Homo sapiens: one gene and its partner. The protein of the gene in region 1 interacts with the protein of each later gene in a biochemical or structural test. Each region holds a gene or a part of one and is shown on either strand. Other genes may lie near its edges.

Region 1 (4,247 bases):
GGAGCCTCTGGGAGGGCCCAGGCCTGCCCATACCTTGACTTTAGTACTTTTGCTCTCCAGAACTGTAAGAGGATGTGTGTGTTGTTTAAAGCCACTAAGTTTCTGGGCATCTGTTACAGCAACAACAGGAAGCTCATACCAGCACCAAATGGGGCCCGCCCAGAGCCTTTTGTGGACCTCCTCAGATTGAACCACCAACACTGCTAAGCAGTGATATCATGCCTATTTATTTATTTATTGAGACAAGAGTCTCACTCTGTTGCCAGGCTGGAGTGCAGTGGCGTGATCTCGGCTCACTGTAACCTCTGCCTCCCAGGTTCAAGCGATTCTCCTGCCTCAGCCTCCCAAGAAGCTGGGATTATAGGCATGTGCCACCACGCCCAGCTAATTTTTGTATTTTTAGTAGAGACGAGGTTTCACCATGTTGCCCAGGATGGTCTCGATCTCTTGACCTCATGATCTGCCCACTTCAGCCTCCCAAAGTGCCAGGATTACAGGCCTGAGCCACCGCGTCCAGCCCAATCGAGCCCATTTCTAACGGGGAGACTGAGGCTGAAGCAGAAGTGCCCCACTGCAGGAGCACACAGTCCCCACCTGCTCTGGTTGGGAATGATGCCCCGCTCTTGCTCCCGCAGGTCACGACCCATGCGCACCGCCAGCCAGTGGCCTCCTCGTGCGTGGCTCTGCCCGGGGCCGGGGTGCAGCGTGTCCAGCACGTGGAAGACGTCGCCACGGGTGAAGCCCAGGCCAGACGGTGGACTGGGCTCCAGCTCAAAGTGAGTGCGGATGTAGAAGGAGTCACCCACGCGGGACTGCACCATTTTCCAGAAAACTGGGGAGAGCGGGAGGCCACATGAGCTGCCTGGGCTGCTGCCTGATCTGAGCCCTCCCCACCCGAGAGTGGGCCTGGCTGGAGATTTGGGGCACTCTCCCTGTAGGGGCCAGGGAGAGGGATGGAGGGTGCAGAGATGCAGATTCAACCACATCCCTGCACTCACCACCAGGCCACACAGCCAGGTCCTCCCCCCGCAACACACAGGCACACCCATATCCACGCGCACTCACTGTCCTGCTTCCTCTGCGTCACCAGCTCCATCTCCTCGCCTGGTGGCAGCCCCAGCAGGAACTGCACTGCCTCCTCCCGTGTCAGGTTCTGGAATGGCACGTCATTCACCTGCCAGAAAGCAAGTGCAGCTATAGAAAAAGCTCTGGTACCTCTTGGGCGTGCATGAGATCCTGGACCTTCCTCTGGGCAAAACTCAGCCCCAGCTGCTTCCAGAGCTGCTGCCAAGGGACCCGGCAGTTCCCCGAGGGCTTTCCGACTGGGGTATCACCCTATGGCTGTGTGATGTGTGACACAGACAGCTGGTGGCATTGTAAGGATACAAGAGTTTTGACACAGAAACGGGCACAGGCACTGCACTTGTCCTCAGATAACCAAATCATGGTGGGTTGTCAATATCAAAACATGGGAACAGAGGTCATGGCATGGAGCTCGATGGAAACTGTGTGAAATGCTCAAAAGAACTCAGACGTAGTCACAGTAGTCACAGGGTCGTGACAGGGACAACGATATATGGACACACAGTGGGTCACAGATGCCTACCACCAGGGTCATGACAGGGACAACAATATATGGACACAGCCATCTGCTCTCCGGGTCATGACATGGACAGCAATATACAGACACAGCCACCTGCTCTCAGGGTCATGACATGGACAGCAATATACAGCCACCTGCTCTCCGGGTCATGACATGGACAGCAATATACAGCCACCTGCTCTCAGGGTCACGACATGGACAGCAATATACAGACACAGCCACCTGCTCTCAGGGTCATAACAGGGACAGCAATATACTTGCACAGCTTGTGGGCACAGACACCTACTCTCGGGGTCATGACGTGGATGTCAAGGTTAGAATCCCACAAGCAAAATGAGTAGAAATACAGTAAAAAATACCATGACCCTCAGGCAATTTGGCATCAAGTTTTCACCCAGCCAGTGGGCTTATGACATGGAAAGTGGGGAGCTGTGACTCCATCATGAATCACAACTCACACTGCAAGGTCAAGACACAAGCAAGGTCATGAGAGCAAAGTGGGGGTGAGACTTGGTGAGTGAACTCGCGCAAGGGACAGGGGAGACAGCCTGGGGATGAGATGAGGCAAGGACAGAGATGGGGGGATGATGAGGGGCTGTGGATCCTGGAGGTAGTTATGACACTGTCATGAAGGCAGGACACAGGCAAGGTCACAACACAGACACAGGGGATGGTGGCACAGAAAATGACTATAAGTGGACATGGAGATCATGAGAGAATGATCTGTGACCTGACCACACGATTAGGACATACAAGACGGTCATGACACGGTCAACACAGCCAATGTCAGGAACAAGAGGATTGCGACCCAGACAAGGTCATGACATAGGCAATGAGGCTGTGACCCAAAGTCCTGACATTGATAACAAGGAGATTGTGACATTGATAACAAGAATGTCACATGAACAATGTCATATGACATGAACAACAAGATTGTTGTTCCCAATCTTGAGCACAGTGTCTCAAGCTTATAATCTCAGCACTTTGGGAGGCTGAGGCGGGTGCATCACTTGAGGCCAGGAGTTCAAGACCAGCCTGGCCAACATGGTGAAACCCTGTCTCTACTAAAAACACAAAAATTAGCTGGGCATGGTGGCGGCCACCTGTGATCCCAGCTACTTGGGAGGCTGAGTCAGGATGATCCCTTGAACCCGGGAGGCGGAGGTTGCAGTGAGCCAAGATCACACCCCCGCACTCCAGCCTGGGTGACAGAGCAAGACTCTATCTCAAAAAAAAAAAAAAAAAAAGTTAGCCAGGCGCAGTGGCTCATGCCTGTAATCTCAGCTACTTGGGAAGCCGAGGCAGGTGGATCACCTGAGGTCAGGAGTTTGAGACCAGCCTGGCCAACATGGCGAAACCCTCATCTCTACTAAAAATATAAAAATTAGCCGGGCGTGGTGGTGGACAACTGTAATCCCAGCTACTCAGGAGGTGAGGCAGAAGAATTGCTTGAACCTGGGAGGCAGAGGTTGCGGTGAGCCAAGATCACACCATTGCACTCCAGCCTGGGCAACAAGACCAAAACTCCATCTCAAAAACAACAACAACAAAAAATGAACCCAGATAAGGTCAAGGCACAGAAAAGGAGGTTGTAACTGGACGATGAGGTCATGACCTGGAAGATAAGGTCGTGACATCAGCAAAATCATGACACAGCCAAGGAGACACTGAAATGTTCAAATACCCATCTGGGGTCTCGACAGTCCCCAGGTGGACCCAAGGGGAGGACTGGAACAGACAAGGGCAGGACCTAGCACACTGCACGCCCATGATCAGTGGGGCTGGCCAGCCGCCCCCGGAGCACCTGCAGAATCTGATCTCCCTCCTGGATGCCCTGCCCGTCGGCCGGGCTGCCCGCCTGCACCCCGGACACGAAGATGCCCACGTCATTGCCCCCTGCCAGCCGCAGCCCGATGCTCTTGCCCTTGAGGAAGCGGACCACACGCGTGTCGGGGCTGTACCTGCAAGGGGAGGCAGAGATGGGGTCAGAGCAGAGTGGGCGGACAAAGGGAGGGCTCAGCATTGTCCTTGGGAAAGCCCCCACCCCCTCCAGGCCTCAGTTTCCCCAAAACCCCCACTTAATGGTCCCACTCAACACAATGGATACAAGCAGGCAGGATTGCGCTGATGAGGGAGGCAGCCTGGGATGTAGGAGTTTTGAGCGGGTTTGCTTTCTTCTGGGGTACATACCCACGATCCTCCATGCTCTGACTGCTGGGCACTCTGTAGATGTCATAGCTGCTTTCCCTGGGCAACTCTGAAAGGGAAAAGCCAGTCTCTTTCCCAAGCACACTGGCTCAGTCCAGCCTCCAAACCTTTGCTTTATGTCCTCATCCTGGAAGGACTGTCACCCACCTCGAGTCCTTCTCAGGAAACCATGTCTCACCACTTAGGCTCAGGCCAACCTCCCCCAGCTCTGCCTGGCACAGCCTTGCTGTCAGGGATCAGAAATGTCAGGGACAGGGGTGCTCAGAGTCACCACCCACCTGACCGTTGCTCATCTGGTTCCGAGATGGTTCTGGAATCTACTGAACTTTCCCGCCGAAGCCGGGGACTCTCCCTGGTGGGGAACAGATTGGGAGTGAGGCAGGGATGGATTTCAAGGGGCCATTTTAAAAAGAATTTTAGGCCGGGCACGGTGGTT
Region 2 (3,741 bases), about 31 Mb from region 1:
GAGAAGAGCCTATGGGTATAGTGAACATATACTTATCTGATACACTTAGCCTACATTTGAAAGATAGTGATGATAGTTTCTGCATGACTGGGTTGTTTGGGAATGTGATCACATAGCAGGAAACTGCCTAGCACACTGCCTGACCCGGAGTGGCTCAACAGAAGTTACTTGTAAGTAATATTAATGTAGTGTTAGTCATAAGGAATAGTGATAGCTCAGACATTCTTCTGCATTCAGAAGACAGTCCTTTCTTTTCCTGCAGATTACTATTTCAAACTACACTCTGCATCCCACCATTTTTCACCTTCTCCAGCCCGTCATTTATTGATCCATCCATTCATCTTTTCATTTATGTATCAGATACGCAGAAGCACTCCCTAGCCCTGTTGTTTTCTGGCCCTCCTGTCTTCTAAAAACCTCAAGGTGATGATTGCCTTTGTCAGTCCCACATCTGGGCTGCCAGAGGAAGCTGGAGCCATCAAGCAGGTGGATTTGTGACACTGTAGATTCACCATCTCACCCCTCTAGTGTCCTTCTTGCCTGCTCAGTCAGCCTTCACCCCTCTCCCCTATTCCACATCTTCACTTGAATGTCTCAGAGGCACCTCACACTCATCATGCCTAAAAGGACCTCATGATCACCCCCATTTTCAGCTAATGCCTCTTTCAATGAGTGGAGAAGGCTAAAAACAAACGTGGACAACCCCTCAACACCTCCATCTCCCTCATACCCAATATCCAGCCATCCCCGAATCTTGACCATTTCACATCACTCATGTCTCCTGAATCCTCACCTTCACTAGTTTCCATCAGCTCCAGCATTAGTACTCTAGGCCAAGTGATCATCTCTTGCCTGCATAATGCTACCAGATTCCTCGCTGTTTTCCCCCATGTGCTCTGTGCATCTGGTCAGCCCTGTGTGTTATATCTGCATCCACTCACATGTTCCATGTATCACCGCCTCCCTTGCCACTGATGTCAGAGCATCTGACCTACTTTATGAATAAAGCCTACACACTTGATTTTCTTGCTTTTTGACACTTACTGATTCATGTTCATCTGACTTATCCTGCAGCTTCCTTCTCACTTCTGTGGAAGAGTTATCATCCTGGCCATGGCTAATTTCTCCAGCAGAATCTAGATTACACTTTCTGCCTTCTCAGGTGTATTAGCCATCTACTATTAATATGTAACAATATTACCACAAACCCTGCAGCTGAAAACATCACTTATTTATTATCTCCCACCTATGGATTGGGAGTCCAGGCACAGCTTAGCTGGGTCCTCTCAGGCGTGTCATAGGCAGCTCATAGCTCATCATCACCATCAGCTCACTTCTTCAAATCAAGCCACTGTGTGAGACTCCAGCAAGACGGATGTTCCAGTCTTATAAAATTACATATATTTTATCATGTACATTCCATCATCTTTGCCATATTCTATACTTTAGAAGCAAATCGAGGTCCTGCCAACATTTTAACAGGGGAACTACAAAAGGGTGTGAACACTATGACTTGGGGATCATGAGAAGCCATACGTGAATCTCTCAGCTGCATCAGGGAACATGCTTCTTCACTTACTTCCTACCTCTTCTATATTTTCATCCCCTCTCTACTCAACATTAAAAAAAAATGATGATGTTTCTGATACCTGGGGGAGACTTTTTTTTTTTTAGTGCTCTTACGTCTCCAGCAGCATCTACATATTGTTGACTCTATTTCACCTGAACAGCCAAGCTTGTTGGAGAAGTCTTCTCATTCTTTGAAGAGACATCTACACAAGACTTTCCTTTATTTATTTTTTCCCTTATTTTTGTACTGAGGTGCAATTTATACATAATAAGTGTACAAATCATAAAGTTTCATTTCTATAAAGTTTTATATATGTACAAGTCAGAGAAACCATCTCACAGTTCAAGAAATACAGTGTTTTCAGCACTTAACAGGCTCCTTGTGCTCATTCTTTGTCAGTATCCCCTTCTATAAAAGTAGTCAGTGTTTATACTCTATATCACCATACATTAGTTTTGAAGGCATATAAATAGAACCCCCTAGTACATACTCTGTCCTGACTTCTTTTGATAATCTTTATGACTCAGATTCATTCATGTGGTTGCATATAGTTGGAGTTAGTTCATTACCATCATTGAATGAATAGACTACATATACCCATTTTCCTATTGATGGACATTTGACTTGGTCTCCATTTTTGGAATATTATGAAGACTACTCTTATGAATATTCTTGATTGTATTTTTTGTTGGATATAAACCCATATTTCTGTTGGGAATATACATACAAGTGGACTGGCCAGATCAAGTGTGGGCATATGATTAGCTTTAATCGAAACCACCAGTTTCAGAGTAACTACACCATTTCACATTTCCACTAGCCACGTATGAGAGTCTTCATTGTTCCATGTACGCCTGAGCAGTTGGTGTCTTTCCCTTTACTCTTTGATGCCTGGTAGTGGTGTTTCTCAGCACCACAGCACTTAAAGTGTTCTTGCCCAGGTCACTGTTGCCATCCTGATTGCTAAATTCAACTATAATGATAATAGACAGTGGTCTACAGTTTACCAAACATTTATTCTTTGTCACACGAATGAACTTTTGTTTGGTTTTTGGGTTTTTTTTGAGACAGGATCTCACTCTGTCGCCTAGGCTAGTGTGCAGTGGCACAATCTCGGCTCACTGCAGCCTCTGCCTCCTGGGTTCAAGTGATTCTCGTGCCTCAGCCTCCTGAGTAACTGGAATTACAGGCATGCACCACCACACCTGGCTGAATTTTTTGTATTTTTAGTAGAGATAGGGTTTTGCTGTGTTGGCCAGGCTGGTAACTCCTGGCCTCAAGTGATCTTCCTGCCTCAGCCTCCCAAAGTGCTGGGATTACAGGTGTGAGCCCCCACACCCAGCCACAAATCAATATTTTGTATGCTTTTTCTCCTAACAACTTGTAGGCAGGAACTGAGAGTATCCCAGTTTTTCAGATGAGGAAAGTGAATCTTAGAAAAGTGTGTTAGTCTGCTCTGGCTGCTGTAATAAAATACTATAGACTGCGTGGCTTATATAGCAGAAATGTGTTTTCTCTCAGGTCTAGAGGCCGCAAGTCTAAGGTCAGGGTACCAGCATTGTTGGGTTCTGATAAGGGCTGTCTTCTCAGCTTGCAGATGGCCGCCTTCTCACTTTGTGCTCACATGGCCTTCCCTCAGTGCCTTCACTTCTTACAAGAAGTTTACCATGTTGGCCAGGCTGGTCTTGAACTCCCGACCTTCAGTGATCCGCCTGTCTTGGCCTTCCAAAGTGCTGGGATTACAGGCATGAGCCACCATGCCTGGCCCCCCTCTGACTTTCATAATTGTCCCTAGGTGTGCAGAATTAGAAAAATTATAAATAATGATTTATGACACATTGTCATCATTAGTCAATGCGTGTCCTGGTTTTTTGTTTTATTTTCTTTCATTGCATTTTATTAATATATTTATTCATCCTCCTTTAAAAAGATTGTAATGAACACCTACAAACCTTTCGCCAAGTACAAGAACATGACCTGCTTCCTGCATCTGTTGATGTGTTTCTTTCCTTTCCCATTCCTATGCTGCCTCCCTTGCATACATGGCCACTTTAAGATTTGTTATTCCATTGCTTATTCTGTAGGAAGATTCAGGTTTTTTTCATAAATATAGGCTATTCAGATGTTCTGTTTTTGTTTGTCCGTTTTGGTAATTTGAGTAATGTAAAATA

Evidence for each region.
Region 2: the proteins of TJP3 (region 1) and ZNF599 interact in a test that uses a peptide from one of them, tested with the Homo sapiens proteins (one large-scale study listed by IntAct).

What each region holds. Positions count from the first base shown.
Region 1 is NC_000019.10:3,735,482-3,739,728, reverse strand, and holds part of TJP3 (tight junction protein ZO-3), read right to left. Parts: intron 4,164-4,247; coding exon 4,090-4,163; intron 3,861-4,089; coding exon 3,794-3,860; intron 3,565-3,793; coding exon 3,408-3,564; intron 1,175-3,407; coding exon 1,066-1,174; intron 833-1,065; coding exon 595-832; intron 1-594. UniProt on the Homo sapiens protein: TJP1, TJP2, and TJP3 are closely related scaffolding proteins that link tight junction (TJ) transmembrane proteins such as claudins, junctional adhesion molecules, and occludin to the actin cytoskeleton.
Region 2 is NC_000019.10:34,762,975-34,766,715, reverse strand, and holds part of ZNF599 (zinc finger protein 599), read left to right. Parts: intron 1-3,741. UniProt on the Homo sapiens protein: May be involved in transcriptional regulation.